2 separate regions of the Homo sapiens genome follow, and region 2 is linked to region 1. The links come from fine-mapping of genetic effects on gene expression. A gene starts in region 1. The other region holds a variant in brackets. All regions are shown on one strand. Distances are from middle to middle.

Region 1 (8,321 bases):
ATAAACATCCAATAAAATAAGAGCTAATAATAAGAATAATAAGCAAAAAAAAAAAAGACAAAACTTAAATATCTTTTGTCACCGTAACTACCTTTGTTTCCAAATGACTTACTTTTTGTCTGAGCAAATTTTTAAGTAATCTTCAAAAGACCTAAAGGCCATTCTGAGATGATACTTAGTGACCCAGAATTTAACCCACTCCTCCTGGAGGGCAACAAGGAAGAGGCCAGAGGCCCCCCAGTTCCCGAGTCTAGTCTGTGGGAGTACCAGCAGCTGGTCCAGACCAGCTCCCCAGGCCGAGTCCCCTCACTGTCCGCGCACTGCCCCTTACCCAGCCCAGCAGCTTTCCCAACCCTTGCAGACCCAGGACAGAGTCTGCCCAAGGCTGACATCTTTCCTCAGGCCTCAGCTAAGGCCCAGGCAGCCGTGGCCAAACCTGCATGGGGCACCCATGGCCAGAAGAGCCTGGTAGCAGCCCCTATGCCTAGCGCTGCCCAGCCCAGGCCATGGCTGGCTGCTGTTTTCCTGAGATGGGATCCGTGGGTAAGAGAGGGGAACTGACCAGCCCAGCTGAAGCATCCACAGGTGTCAATTAGGTGCTCCCTAATTGATATCCCTCCCAACGGATGACTCAGGACTCTGGTCTGGACTCCCGGTGCCACCGCCTTGTGCCAGGGAGCCCTCCCGCGCTGGAGTTCCCACCCTGGCTCAGGACTTCCACCTCAGCTCCTACTTTACCATCAGCCTTAGGGCTGGGCCAGGCCTGCCGTCCCTGTGTTCACCCCGTATCCAGGCTTCGCCGCACATAGACGTCCAGTCCCAACCCGCTGCCACTTACCACGGTACGATGACGGCCACTGGGTCAGGGTGGAGGGAATGGGGAGAGAATTCCAGGCAGGAAGGTCTTCAAAGAGGTCATGACAGCCATGCCCCTGCCTCCAGGCTCTGCCTGCCCAGGACACCCAATCCCTGATCTTGAAGGTCTGTGCTAATAGAAGACCAGCCCCAACACCACCTGGGTCCTGACCCACAGGAAGCTCCTGCTACAACACCTACCCCCAAACCTCTGACACAGCAATACCAATGCTTGTGAAAACTGAGCATGACACATGACCGAAAAACATTCATTTCACCGAGAATAATGCCTTTCTCTGGGAAGGGAAGCCCCAAGTCCTGGCGTGTGTGTTCCTGCCCTGGACCTGTCTTCCTCCTCCGCCTCCTCCACTTCTCTCTCTCCCTCTCTTATCTCCCACACCAGTGCTCAGGGGCACACAGGGGACAAGGTCAGAGACCACTGGAATATGCTGGCTCTTCAAAGTCTTCAAGGCCACCCCCAGCACATCCATCTCCCAACCCAGCTCTCTCTTGATAGACTCCACCTCCCAGTCCCCCGGGCAGGGCCTGCCACTGACCTGGAGTGGCAGCGGGTTGGGGCTGGGCTTCCATGTGCAGTGAAGCCTGGATACAGGGCTAATGCAGGGAGGGCAGCCTGGCTGACAGAGCAACTGCAGCTGCTCTGCTCAGCACCTTCCTCATACCAGGCATCTTCACACACCCACAAGGCAGCTCCTGCTCTCATCCCCCCTTACAGAAGAGGAAACTACATTACCTGGCACATGAAGGAAGGGATCACCCTGTGGAAGGTGGAGCCTTTGTAGCCGAAGCCCTTCTCACCAGTGCACAGGGCTCTGAAGTTCTCTGAGGGTCGAAGAGAAACACAGGTCAACAGGGCCAGGCCCCAATTCCAGGGTCATACCCGTTCCAGCCAAAATCCCTGCTACATCCCCAGCAGTGAACAGGGGGATAAAGACTCTGGCCCACCTCTTGGGTCTGCTCTGCCCAACTCGCTATGTAACTGGACAAGTCACTCCCCTTCCCTGTCCTCAGTACCTGAGCACTGTGACAAGAGTACAGGCTCATGGCTGTGCTGGCCAGCAGGGCACGGACTCAAGGGCTGTGTGCCCATCACCCTGCCTCACTGGGCACCAGGAGTGGGGAAGTCTCCGGGAAATTTACATGTGCCTTCCACTGGCTCTGAGGCTCCCAGCTACTATGAGAGAGGAGGGCAGAGCCAACGTTGAGGCCCAGAGAGGGATGGCAGGGCTGCCCCAGAGCACCCAATGGCTGAGCCACACATGGAGCTCCCATCTGTCAGGGGTCTCTGAGCCCCGACTCTTCTCATCACGCCACCCACCTTGCCCTGCCTGGCCCCCTTCCCTCTAGACCCATCTCAGAAGGCCCCAGGCCCTGTCTTACCAGCTGTCTTTGGGACGACATCTGCCTTCAGCTGTTGGGGGAGAAGAAGGACAAAAGAGGATGGTCATTGGAGAGGCAGGTGAAGGTGGGTGTCTCTCAGCACCCACCCACCCCCACAGTGGCCAAGGAGGCTAAGGAAGAAGCACGTGGACATTCCATTCCCATTATTGCCAACCCCCATGGGAGGCAGCTCTATCATTTCTGGGAGCCGTTTCCTGAACCCAAGGCTGGAGGAGGTGGCCTTGGTTTCCTAATCTGTCAGAAGAGATGACAATGCTATCTTGGCCTACTTCTGTGGACACAGCTGGCAGTGCTCCCACAGCTGGGCCCAAAGCATCAGAAATTCAGGGACAAGAGAGTGTGTCTAAGGTAGAAGCCAGACCAGCTCCTCCATTCGGGGTTGGGAAACTGAGGCCCAGGGAGAGGCATGAGGGTGTGGGGAGGGAAGGCTGAAGCCCCATCCCAGCCAGCCTCTACCCTCGAAGCTGCAAGACCCACCCTGGAACCAAATGGAAGCAGGAAGGGTGTCCCTATTTTCCAGAAGAAACTGAGAATGAAGAAGAAATACTAAGGGCTCCCTGGGATACGGGCCAGTCAACACAAACAGACCCCTGCTGTCAATGTGTGGCCGACCTGAAGGCTCCACTAGGGCTTTCCCTCTAAAGCTACCCTGGTGACTGTTTCTTACTTTGCTTTAGAAAAGACCCAAAAACAGAGTTAGGGGAGGTGCTCAGTGTGGCCCCCAAGGACAGTGGCAGGGGTTGAGGCGCCGGGCACACTGTCTCTGAGTGTGTCCCGACTCGCAGGAGGGGCATTCTGGGGTCCACCAGGTGGCCGGGGCCTGAGGCCTACTGGGCCCGCACTACTGCTGGAAACCACCTCTCGCTCCATTTCCCAGCACCCCCAGTGTGAGCCCGACCGCAGGGGCGGGGCCGGAGCCAGGAAGCGCTCCGTGTTGTGCAAGGGCCGCCACGTGAGCACCCGCTGGGCCACGACGCTCACCCCAAGACCCCCGACACCCACCTCGGAGCTCCGGATCTAGGCTCAGCCCCAGAAGGCTCCTGGAGCCCCTCCCTCGTGCCCGGGCCGGCCCAGAGGTGCTGAGCCCTCCCTCTCTGCGATCTGACCTTGAGCTTTCTCCTCCACACGTGCCCTCCCTCCCGTCTCCCCCGCTCCAGTGCTCCGAGGGAGGCCGGAAGAAATCATTCTGACGCCCATTCTCAGAAATGGGGAAACTGAGGCCCAGAGCTCGGCATGGGGAGGCCCAAGGTCACCCAGCGCGCCCGGCACCGCGCCGCCCGGGGCCCAGGGCTCTCCCCGGGCCCGTGTCCCGCGCCCAGGCCGGCCCTGCGAGCGGTCTCACCTCCAGCACCACGCGGCCGAGCGGCTTCCCGTTGGCGTCCACGTCCAGGTACACGAGCGGGTTCCCGGAGGAGGAGGAAGAGGACGGGTCGCCGGAGCCCTTGCTGCAGGCGCGGGCCGCGGGGAGGCGCAGCGGCACGGAGCGCGGGACGGAGAGCAGGCCGAGCCAGCGGGAGCCGCAGCGCAGCGCCAGCATCGCGGGCGCGGGTCGGGCGGGACACGGGCGGGGAGAACACAGAACTCAAACTGACGTCGCGCGCGCCCAGAAGGCCGAGTCCCGCGCAGCCGCGCGCCGCAGCCTTTATTGGCTTGCCCAGGTTCCCGGCCCTGCCCCCGTCCCGCCTCCTCCAGGCCTGTCCGTGGACTACCCCTGCCGGCCGCAGCGGGCAGCGCAGCCAGCCGGTGGGGCCGCGGAGCGTGAAGTGCTTTGAAACACTCCCGCCTCCAGGCCCAGAGACCCGGAGAACAGACACCTGGCAAAAGGTTGCTGGTTCCATGTTTATTAAGGTACCAGCAGATTTTTTTAAAAAAAGAAAAACTGCTAAAACGTAATTAATTCCAAAATATGAGCATCTATACGTTGCAATTTGAATATAATAGCAAAAGTCTACCTTTGAGCCCTTTGCAGGTAAGGCTCAGGCCAAATAAGCTTCCCTGCTGCCCTAGGTCCTGCAGTCTGAGAGGGTTAGAGAAAGGTGAGATGAGAGGCGGGATTAGTGAGCTAGAGGCGCAAGAGGGAGGAGATAAGCTGAGACACCTCCCATGATGCCCCCTAGCCTGCTTGTCCCGGCCTGGGCCTGTCTCTAGTTGTTTCTGGGGACCAGACCTGCTTCTAGCAAGACTGAAAACGCAGCCTGGGCTCATCATGCTCCTTTCAGGCCCCCAGCCCTCCCCAGGACTGGGTCTGATCCCTCCTCCTAGGACCCACACTGACAGCCCCGGGGCAGACTGCCAGCTGCCCCCTCCCATCAGCATGCACCCTGGGAGGGGACTCAGTGGGGAGACCCACAGCAGGAGCATTTAAACCCCACGTGCTGAAAGTGGGCTTCCCAGCAGCCAGAGCCACCCTCACTGCAAGGTGGTGGGAGGTCTGCAATAAATGGATGCCACGCAGGGACCTGAGAGAGCATCTGGCCCAACACTTGTACTGTCCCCAGGGGAAGCTGAGGCCTGGACACAGGAAGGCACTGGCTAGGGCTAGGGAGCCCTGGAGTATTGCTACCAGCTTGCACCAGTGCTCCAGGCCTCTCTGGGCCTCAGTTTCCCATCTGGAGGGTAAGGGTGCGATCATGCTCCTCATCCTGCTTTTTTCTCGTGTCTGTTCTTAGGATAAAATGAACGAGAGAGACATGGATTTGTCAACTAAGTACTGTGCCTGTGGGCATCTGTGATGGACAGAGTCTGGACTGTCTTTCTCACAGTTTGGGATTCAGAGAGCTGCGGTCTCAGTTAGAGGCCTGAGGGGTCAGAGAAAGGGGTGGGGCTGAGCCTTGGAGGCAGGTGGGCAGGAGTAGGGACCAGCTCTGGACTGACCTGCCCCAGATCCTGAATGGGCTCATGGGAACAGGTCAGGCAGCAAAATGCCAGCCAAGCAAATTCATGAGGTCAGAGCAGTGCCCTAGCTTCATAAGAATGCTAGCTTGGCCTCTGGAAGTTTGGCTAGCTTGGCTTCTGGAAGTTCATAGCCCCCTTCTCCGATTCCTGGCCTAGGAGGGGCCTAGGCACCCAGTGAAGCCCAGGTGGGATGCATTCCAGGTCCCAGCCCAGAATGGGGCCTCACTCTGCCCTGGGGAGCAGCCCCTCCTTTCTTATGATTGTGCCCTGAGGTGAGCAGGCCTGAGTGGGGAGCCCACTTGAGCCCTCAGCACATGTCCCAGACCTTCCTCTACCAGTGCATCCTGTGGATTTGAGAGTGGAGGAATCACGCCATGTGCCTTGTCATGAAGCTTCCTTAAGGCCCCAGGCTTCCCTGCGGCCAGTTCCAGGCCCTGAGCTCACAGGACCTTCAGCCACAGCAGGTAGCTCAGCGTACCCTGTTGTTTCTCAAGCCTGCTCCTGGGGGGACTCAGTTTATGCCCCATCCTGATGAAGCATGAGCATCCCCACCCCAGGGGAGTGCTGCCTTCATTCACTTGACCACTTCAGTTCTCAGAACCCTTTCCCAGCTGTGAACTCTGCCTGAGAGACAGCTCTGTTTTGCAGATGGGGAAGCCAGGCCCCAGGGGCTGGGGAGTGAATTGCCCAAGGGCAGGCTGTTGGAACTGGGACCAGTCTGTCTGACTTCACAATCAGGGTTATTGCATGTCAAACCCTTCTCACTCTCACCACGAAGCTGGTCCTTGGGACAGGGTGGGGAGGCAAGAGAGATAAGCCTGGGCAGACAACACAGTAAGATAGAAACGGTGGAGTTGGCCAGGGGGCTATGGAGCTCAGGGACTAGGGAGATGGTTTTAATAGTGAGCATGAGCTGAAAGGCCTGTGGGGACCCAATCACAGAGGGCTCTGAAGGCCTGGCTGAGGTCTGACATTGTTGGATAGCACTGGGGAGCCATGAATAGTGCAAAGACTCCATGCTGAGGACTCTGGACTGGGAACCAGCTTCTTTCATTCATGTTACTCCTTCCACTCTCTTTGGAAAATCAAACGTCATCACTACCTCCTAAGCCAGAGAAAAGCCTACCTTCCCCAAAGGCTTAGCTATGATGTCATCCCTTCCTGTTCTGTTCTCAGTGGTATCAGGAAGAAGGATAGTCTATAGGCTAAGCCATGAGCTGAACACATGCCCAGCCCTTGAGGGCTCCGGGCCCAGGTGACATCAGGCAGGTGTTAGCACTCACCTGGCTCTGAGGCTATTTATAGACTGTGTTATCCTCAGAAACAGCAGTGTTTCTCTCCACTCAGCTCACATGGTTTTTTATCCAGGGTGCTGATGGGTTTTGTCACCTAGGGATCCTGTAACACCACCTCTAGGCCTCACAAAGCCAAAGAACAATCAGTTTGTGCTAAGCTCAGAATCTCATTCAGGGGTTGCAAACTCAGATGCCTGCGGGGGCCAGGCAGGTGATACACATGAGTGGTGCAAGCTGGTAAGTATGTAGGGAGTGAGGGGAGGTGGCACTGTATCCAGATAGCTAATGGATGTCCCAGGTAAAGAGGTAGCTGCTGCCCAGGCCAGCCAATTATTGTATATGGGACTATGGGTCCACACAGGCCACCCAGGTTTTCTCATCTTTCAATAAAAGCTGAAGACTTTAAGTTTTATAGAAATCTAGTTTTCAAATTTTTGAAATGAATTTCAAAATAAAATTAAACACCGAATGAACTGTAAACACCGTATCCAAACTAGATGAGGACTCTGGGCTGATAGTTTGTAAGCTCTGATTTCCACTGTACAGGTGAGAGGACTGAAGCTCAGAGAAGGATGGGGAGTGGCCCGAGGCCATACAGCTGGGCAGTACCAGGACTGTGGTCAGACCCTCTCTTCACTCTCCCCAGGGCCCTTTCTGCAAAGTTCACTCAGCAGACATGTTTTCAGAGCACCTACTGTGTTCTGAGCCCTGAGCTTCACCCTGGGGATTCAGAAGGACAAAGACAGGGACAGGAGGTTATGGTGTCCTGAGATGCTGGAACTGCTGAACAAACCTCTCCCAGGTAGCCCTGTGTGTGGCAGGAGTGAACGCTGTGGTTGTCGTGGGGTACAAAGTTACAGTTGTTCTGGAGAGACCCTCCAGGAGGGGCTGGGGGTGAAGGTAGCCCCGGTGTGGGCATGAGGTGGGGTTTCTATAATATTAAATATCATGAAGGCTGAGATCATTACCAGTGCCAGTCACTGGGTCATACAACCTGTGCTGCCAGCCTAGACAATGGTCCTTAGGTAGGATGAGGCCATGGACTTCATCTGTCTGGTTATGCTTGAGGGGTTTGGGGTCCAGGATAGCATCTGTCATGGGAAGGGAAACTGAGAGAGAGGTTCCCCGCGACTCAGAAAGCCACCAGACCCTTCTACTGGGTTGCTGTGGGACTCTCTGGGGATGGAGTGTCCCCCGTGGCCTTTGCAAAGTCAGTACATTCATCATCCTCTCTCTGCTGGCTTCTAAGAACCAGACCATGATGGGGAGGCAGAGGCAGAGAAGGGAGGTTCCACTAAGGCCCAGGGAGGTGGTGGGCACAGTGATCAGAGAGAGACCCACAAGGGGAAGATGGGGCGAAGCTCTCCTCTGGAGTCCAGCTGGTCTTTTACTCGTGTGATCTGGATCACTGCGGGCCACTGAGAGCGGAGCCAGTGTGGTAGGGTGGAGCTCAGTAGGGTGTGGCTCACCCTCAGCTGCTGGGCTCTCACACAACCTGCCTGGCCACAGCCCCCTGCAACTCACAACTCAGCAGAGCTTGCCTTCTGGGAGTATCTGCAAGATAATCCATGTTTGTTGTTTGAAGCCACTAAGTGTTGGGTCATTTGCCATGTGCAGTGGATAACTCATACCCATAGTACCCCACCCCAGCCAGGACTCCTGGAAGATCCCATTGCTCCATGCACAGCCAGTCCTGGATCTGCTGTCTCAGCAAGCTTGGTCACCAGCTCTTGGCAAGGACCTCACGGGCATGGTCAGGGAGAACTGGTCCAAGAGACAGGACTTCCTTGTCTTTGTAAAGACGTGGAATGGGCTGGTTATTTCTGTCTCATGCCTCTGAGGGAGACTGATTGA
Region 2 (8,321 bases), 32 kb after region 1:
CTGACCCACAGGGAGGATTTGAGAGCACTGATCATGCCCCAGCCAAGAGGCCTTTTATTCCTTGTGGCAGTCAATTTTGGCTGTGCGCTGCCTGGCAGGGGTGCATGTGTGGGGATAGGGGGCAGGTAACCTGTCAGGCATGGAGGTTTCTGTGAGCTGAGGGAAATTCTCTGATAAAGGGGCACGTTCTGGGCTGTTGGCGGCCAACACCCGTAGCAGCGGCAGGATGGGTGGGCCAGTCGGTGAAGAAGATCCTGATGAAGCACCACAAGTACCTAGTTACCATAGGAACCTGCGGAGAAGACAAGGAAGGCACAGAGGGATGCCAGGAAAACTAAACAGATGAAAGAGGAAGTTGTCATGGATTCAAGTGTCTTCATCTCTTTTCTGTTGCTCTAACAGAATACTCGAGACTGAGTAATTTATAAAGAAAAGCAGTTTATTTAGCTCATGCTTCTGGAGGCTGGGAAGTTCAAGATTGGGTGGCTGCATCTGGTGAGGGCCTCATGATGCATTGTAGTATGGCAGAAGGCATCATGTGGCGAGGAGGGCAAGCGCGTGCCAAGTTGGCTTTTATAAGAGACCTACTCCCATGATAACCCATGAATCTGCCAACTCATTAATCCATCAATCCATTCATGAAGGCAGAGCCCTTATGACCCAAGGGCCTGCCTCTTAGTACTGTTACACCGGGGATTAAGTTTCACCATGAGTTGTGGTGGGGGGGACAAGCATTCAAACCATAGCACCAAGAGAAGAGAGCTTCAAGGAAGAAATGGCAACTGTCAAGTGCAGCTGTGAGGTCCAGTCTCAGAAAGCAGCGTGGATCAGCAACGAAGAGGCCATTGGTGAGCTTGCAGGAGAAGTGTCAGAGAACTGGTGGGGCATGAACCAGGCATATGAAGGGTGACAGAGAAAGAGAGTGGGCACTGGCAGTTTTGTGGCTGAGAAGCCTGCATGGGAAGGAGCAGAGACTGGCCATCAAGGGGTGGAGCCCAGACCAAGCTGAACCTTGCAATGCCAGAGCCTGGGCCACTAAACCCGGGGAGGCGGGAGGCAGAGGTATGGGGAGGGTTAACGGGCTGATAGAATGAGACTCCTTGGAGAAGAGAAAGGGGTGATGGTGTCAGGGGCTGGGGGAGGGGTAGCCCCAACTGGGGAAGGGACACCACATCCTCTGGGCCTGGGTGGAAAAAGATATGGCCAGGGTGGATGGAGATAGGTCTGTGGGTAGCAGCAGGGACAGTGGGGAGCTGGGTGAGGGTAGGGTAGCCTGCTTAGAGCGAGGTGGGCGTGGTTAGCAGGAGGCTGGAGCAGAGGAGAAGGGAAATGGGGGGCCATTAAACATTGAGTGCCCTTAGCATTCAGGGAGGCTGGAGACCCCAGTGTATCCTGACATCGACCTGTGGGGCTGAATGAATTTCCCCAATAGCATCCCATGGCCTTACATGAAGACAGTCAGTGGATTCAGGGTGGAGACTTTTTGCAGTGGGCTAGAGGAAGAAGAGACGTAAGATGATCCACAGTGTGTGGCCCCACATGCTGGGAGGCTGAACTCTGAACTGTCCCAAGCCAGGGCCCCCACTGGGCTTTTTAGGTGGATGTTTCTGGTCCAGGGGTTAGGCTCACAGAAGGAAGTCACCCGTCTGGGGAGGAGTTAGCTGAGATGGGGCCGGCCAGTCTCCATACAGCCTTGTGGGGCAGCCACAGGCCTGTATCCCAGGTTCAGAGTCTCCAGCTGAAATGCCAGGAAGGTTTGCTTATTATCATGAAGTTGGGGGAGCACACTGCCCTTCCTCCCTCCCTGCTCCCCTGCCCACTTCCTGCCTTTAAGTCAATGGCATTCAAACTTTTTGTTTTCAACCACAACCCACAAATAAGAATTAACATCATGACTCAGCAGACACACACACACACACACACACACACACACACACACACACACACGTTTCTTGATAGAATGCTACCCTTTACTTTGTAGGGCACACTCCTGATATTTTCTACTGTATTCTCATTTGTTTTATTAAAGTGCTGGTCCAGCCCCACCACACTGCTCTAAGGCACAGGGAGGGGGGCATGTCTCCTACGGGAAGTTCTCCCTCAAGCTAACTAATCACCCTCCTCTCGGAGGGGTGTCTGTTCAGAGAGAGTCAGCCTGTCCTGGTGATGCTGGCAGAAGGCAGTGCCTGCAGCTGAGCAGTGGCCGGTGGGTGTTCCATTATTTAAGGTAAATCTTTTCTCCTCCTCACCTTCCACCTCCCTCCAAAAGGAGAAACTCCAGCCACCTCGGAGAGGCCCCAGGAGCAGGGGGCTTCTAGGCACCCAGCCCCCTACAGGCAGCACCCTGCAGCCTCCCCCACACCGCCGGCTCCTGCACACACATGCCCCTCACTCTCCTGACACCCGGATACATCTGAGTGGAGATCTCTGGGGTGCCGGCCCGGCCCTTCTTCCCTCTGTGGACAGTCCCTGTGGAGGAAAGGCCATGACAGCCACATTTGCTTTCCCCCTAAGGTGAGGCTGCGTGGAGGGAGGGCAGGGACTGGCTGCGGGGCTGTGTCAGATGCATGTTCCTAAAACTTCAATCGGAGACACATCAAGTGTTGTCAGTTTGTGTTGGTGCCGAGGCTGGAAGGATGGTTAGAACCATGGCCTGGGCAGGGGCTATCGTGAGACAGTACCCCATGTAAAGCATGCTCACGGAGGAGGGAAAACCCAAGCTTCCCTAGGAGGGGAGGGGCAGGTGTACCGAGAGGTGGAGGCCAGGGATGCTGAGATGCCAGCAGGGAGCCATGGGTGCAGTGAATGCTCACTCTCCATTGAAGCCACACTCCTGTGTGCTCTGAACAGCACCCTCTGTGGCTTAATATGAATAGCTTCCTGCTACTTAAACCCAGCATAATCCACAAGGGACCATCAAAGATGGGACACTGTTGCACACTCTGAGTCACATGCCACAGGGGCCCCTAGCACCCTGCAGCCACCTGGCCCTATTCAGCCACCCCAACTCCCCCAACCATCCGGCCACACACTGCACTTGCCCCACCAGGGACTGGTTCCAGGGACCCCCATGGACAGGGGTTCTTCCAATTCAACACCCAAACCACCTGCCTTTCTTTTTTGTGTGTGCAGAGGGTAACAGGGCGGGGGGTGTGGTTTAAAACAAAAGCAAAAACACCCAAACCACTCCTTAACATCCACAAAATAGCTAATTCGCCAAACCTTTGTTTTTGTCAATTTATTTAGAAAAAAATTAACATGGGCAAATGAGATACCTCAGTGTTACAACAGAGTATAGAAATGTCTAGCAATAGTCAAATAATTTGATCTTTAAATACAAAATAACCACATGAACACCTAATATACAGGTTTCATCTGAATACATATTTATTAGATAAATATTAGAGGTTGTCACATCATCTAACTACATACAGCTTTGCAAGACTAGAAATCACAATTAGTTTTTTGACCAGTTTAAAGTATGAAATGATTGCATTGTACATACGATGTACAAAGACGATGATGGTTTCTGTGGGAGTTACTTCAGGCTGCACTGGTGGGTGTGTTTATGTGTGTACGTGTGAATCACCTGTGATCATGATATCAAAAATTATACAAAGTATGAATTTGGTTACAATTTTCTTCTGAAATCCCCGTTTCTTTTCATTATTTCCATAGCACCCTAAAAATACACAGGTGGCAGGACTAGTACACTGAAGCTAAATAGTACATGTAGGTAAAATAAAAACAGAACAAAAACCCCTTTCCACTCAGGGTCAGAGTATATTACATGAGCGAGAGAGACAGACGTGGAGAACTCACAAATGCTATAACCAACAGGATCTAGTTTTTCCACGTGATGGAGTTCCAAGCTTTTTTTTTTGTTTTGTTTTGTTTCGCAAAATAAAAACAATACACATTCCAAGAGAAATGAATGCATCTGTTGACACGTCTCTATTTCTCATTTACATATGTACACACGTCCCTTGAGT[C/T]GCTGCTGTTGACACGGCCCTGTGTGGACGGGTCAGGCCCGAGGCCCGTCGGGAGCAGACCTGTAGCTCTCTGGGGGATCAGGGCTTCCATTAGGGAGAAAGTATTAGCAGTTTCTTAAAAAATAAAATGGCTACACGGAACATGATACATGGATAAAGCTTCAAACCAAGAAGATGGGGGTGATTGCCTGTACTTGGCCCTTCCCGCCTGCCTGCTGGCTCCCTGTCCATCTTGCGGAGTGGCGGCAGAAACATGCCTGTGGGCCGGGTGGATGCTTGGCATGGAAAAGTGGCTTGCAGAGGCCTCGTTTTTGCTGAGGTTACTTATGGCTCCAAGTAGTCGTCCGAAAGGATCAGGGAAGGATCTCTCCAGAGTTCAGGACCATCTCTGTTTATGGGCGTTGTCTACCTGCACCTGTCACAACCTGGGGCTTGCTCCCGCCCCGGATGCCTCTGCACCTCCCTCACACCCTGGCCTGGCTCCCAGAGCACTCCGGAAGAGCTTGTCTCCAGACTGCAGGCTGTAGGCACCACGCACGGTTCAGAGCCAGCCGGAAGGGAAGCTCTGGGCCGAGCTTGCTGGTGGAGGCTTGCTGGAGAGGGGACCCAGGAAACCCGCCTCAGGTGCTGAGCCCAGAGATGGTTGCAGGAGGTGCCCGGGGCCTGGGCTGCAGGGAGCATCTCGACTCTCCGCACTGGAAAGCCGTGGATCCACCTGTGAGCAGAGTGTGGACACACCCTGATAAGAACCAGAATGAATCCCAGGCCTTTCTGGGGCAAAGTATCAACGCAAGAAGCAAGAACTCCTAAGGAAGGCATCTGTAAGTCTGTCTGGAGCTTAATTCCCAGATGGTCTGACACAGGGCGTGGCCACTTGCCAGGCCACAGACACTGGGCAAGGGTGGCCACATGCTACCTGGCGTTGGCTTGTCCCTGCCAGCTGACTGAGGGATGGCTCTAAATAGCGGGCTGCCCGGTCTTCCAACTCCCAGCACAGCCGCCCATTCTGTTCACCCCTTCAACTGTACAAATAGCCCTGGTTGCTTTTTTTGTTTTTGTTTAAAAAAAAAGAAGACTCGGTCTTTGTCATTGAGTCCAGGTATTTTAAAAACACCAGCAAAGGCTATAACCAGGTCATGAAAATGTTGAATATTATCAAAGACGATACTAAAATATTCACAAAGATATTTACAAAAGCGATTCTTAAAATAATTGATTTGCATACTGAACAACACGCTATTTGAAAAAACCTCGACAACGGGACAAAGGAAGAAAAGGGGCCGGGGCAATGGCAGCTTTCCTACAGAAAACCTTGTGCCGTCTGGGACAGTGACTGGAAGTCAACAGCTGGGGCCACCTTTCCGGTAAAACCCACAGAGGAGAGCTGGGGACCACCCACAGCGGACGGGAGAGCAGGAAAGGGCCCCAGGCAGCAGCCGGGAAGGGCGCAAAGAATTTACAGATGGGACCCCAGTGACGGGACAACCTGGCATCACCCTAGGCCATGTGGCTCACGGGGCACAGACCAGCCTGAAACAAAGTGAACACAGGACAGGCTCCCCAGGAGGCCCTGGAGAGTGGTAAGCCAGATGGAGCAAAGCGGTGGAGGGAAGGCCAGAGGCTGCTTTTGCTTGAGTGAGCAGGAGTTTGGGTGAGATTGTGATGGTGGAGGAGTGCAGGCAGGGTAGGCTGGCAGCCAAGGGCAGTGTCTGGGGCAGGCCCAGAAACACGCCCCCCTCCCCCCCATGCCTGCAGGTACATACTGGTGCACATGTCCATGGCCTGGGCTGCAGCCGGGGGCAGCTTGGAGCACAGGGACAGAGGGAGGGGCTGGACAGACACCATTGCCCTGGGCTCTGGTTTCTGCACCTCCCCGGCCTTTCCACGCACTGCCCTTGCCATCTGATTGGACAAAGAGAACTAGGACAGAGGGAAGTGGGTGTCCCACGGAAGTCTTGGAGAGGTGGCAGGAGAGGGACTAGGAGAAAAACAGAACAGACGGAGAGAAATGGTTTGCTTGCTGTCCAAGAGCAACGTTCCTTTTCTCCAGGTGACTTCATAGCTTTAAATTGTTGCTGTTTAAAAAGAGAGTGGCTTGGAGCAAAGTTAGAAGTTGCCGCTCCTGTTTGCTTCTGACAGGTTATATGCCCGCGCCCCCCAACCAAGGGCACAATCACTTTGGTTGGGTGTACACCTGCTCTCTCTGTTCCCCAAGCCTGGGCCCTGTCTGAGCTTGGAGGTGGAGCCTCAGGGACGTCCTGGCTCAGAAGATGTCCTGGCCCTCTTCCCCACCAGTCCCCAAGCAGGAATGGCAGACCCCCTCTCAAACACAGACTCTTGTCCTTTTTCTCTGCTTTCTGAGTGTGTTTATGGGGTATCTTGGCTTATAGGTCAGGGGTCAAACCGATGACCCCTGGCCCCCGAGAGACGTTGTCTTTCCCAGAGGTTTGTGCTTTTCTGTGGTGGGTGGTGGTGGGTGGGCTGGTCTCACTGCCACCAACTGCCAGTGCTCCTCCAAGGCTCGGGGCCCATGCTGGGGCCCGGGGGCCTTCTCAGGCTCCACAGTCACTGGAGGGAGGCTCTGGACCAGGAAGCAGGGAGGCAGGGTTACAGTCTAGAAGATGGAAGAACCTTGGGGACACTGGAAGGTCATCTGGAATCGGCACACGCGGAGGGACCGGGAAGCCGCATCAGCGTGTGCCCTCTTACCGGGCTGGTTCCTCTCGGGAGGGTGGTCTTCAGGCCTGCGCTGGGCATGGGCCCAAGCCAAGGGTGTGGAGGTGGGACGTGGGCTCCAGACCCACACAGCCTTCCTGGTGCACTGGTGCACCCTCCCTACCCCTCTGTTCTGAGAGGGCTGCAGCGGGGGAGGGCTCCCCGCCCCACAGCCCGTGGCTCTGGTGCGGGGCGGTCTGAGGGCACAGGCTCCCAGGTGGAAAAGTGTGTTGGGTAGGTGGGGTAGGATGCAGAGTGTGGAGGGATGGCCCCGACCGGGTGGCCCTCAGTTGTTCTCAAATAGAGACAGGAGGTCATCGTTACTATTGCTCGGCAGGTCGGGGGGGTCCAGATAAGACAGGAGCTCGTCAGGATTTGTGAGTTCGGGAAGGAGCTGGAAAAGAAGGAGTAATGAAGTTCAGATGAGGTGTGCCTGAGAGGCAGGCCCCGGGTGAGGAATGCAGGGGCGCCCTGGCCCGTCCCCCTCCACCTGCCTCTCAGGACCCTAGCCAAAAAAAGGGGTAGAGAACAGCCTTGGGCTTGGGCCTGCCAGGTATCCCCACACATACCCCGGCCACTGCACCGAGTGTGGGGCACCCCCATGCTCATTTCAAGCCTCAGGATTGGGACCCGCAGCCCACCAGCTGAGGCCTGAGCAGGGCTGACCCTTTTCAGGCATGGACTTCAGCCCTAACCTGGGAAGGCCCCATGGCAGGTCACTTGGGCCTCCCAGCTGAAATCACATGCTTCACGTGTAAGCACAAGGAGGTGGGCTGGTGGGAAGGCGGGAAGGCGAGTGGTTCCTGCACCGCCCCCAACCCCCCAACATCCCTCTTCTCAAGGGCTCGCCACTCCTTGGTGAGCCTGTGGCTGGCTGGCAGCCATCCTTCCCTGTGGCCCCGGAGGGGATGCAGACTGTCTCTACCCTCTACTGAGATATCCTTGGAGTCTGTCACATGGGGAGCCTCATGCATCTAAAAGCAGCCCCACTGGCCTGGTTTGAGGGGGAACACTGGGCAAGGACCTGAGATGGCTGCACAGTGAGTGAGTCCTAGCTAGCACAGAGCTCCTCTGATGCTGCAGGGCAGAGGCTGACAGAGCAGGGCTGGGGGTGAAGAACAGGAGGGGCCGAGGACAAGCCTCCTCCCGGAGTCTGGCACCAGCTCTGTGTAGGCATGGGCGGGGCCGGTGCTCAGTCCCATCCCGCCAGCCCCATCCAGCAGCCCAGCCCCATCATCCAGGGTGACCCCCACCATCTTCCAGACCTCAGGGTAGGAGCCCTGGCACCTCTGCTGCCCATGATGGCCTGCTGCCCCTGGCTGTGACCCAAGGCTGCCCCCTCTGCCCCCACCTTCTGTCACCCACATGGGGGCCTCTTGGAGTGAGCGATGGAGCAAGCAGAAGCAGGGCATGGACAACACGCGGACAAGAAAACTGGAGACAGACACACACCAGCGAGGCAGACAGACGGCCTCTCCCTCCAGCCCTCCCTGCCCGGGCCAGAGAGGCAGACACAGAAACCGCAAGCTCACCATCGGGGGAGGGCAGGGACCCTCCTGTGCTGCGCAAGGGACCCCGCAGGGCTTGGGTCAGAAGGTGGGTCAGGGCTGGGGT

What was found.
Region 2: its variant is fine-mapped to the expression of PPIF in whole blood (TOPMed, PIP 0.90).

The regions. Positions count from the first base shown.
Region 1 is chr10:79,343,042-79,351,362 of GRCh38, reverse strand. It overlaps PPIF (peptidylprolyl isomerase F), which reads right to left and starts at 3,894. Exons shown (of 6, transcript NM_005729.4): 1 at 3,620-3,894; 2 at 2,257-2,287; 3 at 1,610-1,698. The coding sequence starts at 3,814. RefSeq lists an enhancer at 1,646-2,146, cis regulatory regions at 2,913-3,413, 3,096-3,596, 3,125-3,625, 3,628-4,150, 3,618-4,150 and 5 more and silencers at 3,461-3,690, 3,711-4,120.
Region 2 is chr10:79,311,422-79,319,742 of GRCh38, reverse strand. ZMIZ1 (zinc finger MIZ-type containing 1) reads right to left here. Exons shown (of 25, transcript NM_020338.4): 25 at 3,224-7,101. The coding sequence ends at 6,994. Among named protein-coding and RNA genes, the nearest start is that of PPIF, 32 kb to the left of the region's middle. RefSeq lists enhancers at 835-1,410, 2,000-2,059, 6,206-6,705, 7,463-7,963 and cis regulatory regions at 1,428-1,928, 1,550-2,050, 1,568-2,068, 1,627-2,127, 1,538-2,140 and 5 more. The variant C/T (reference allele first, on the strand shown) is at 3,993.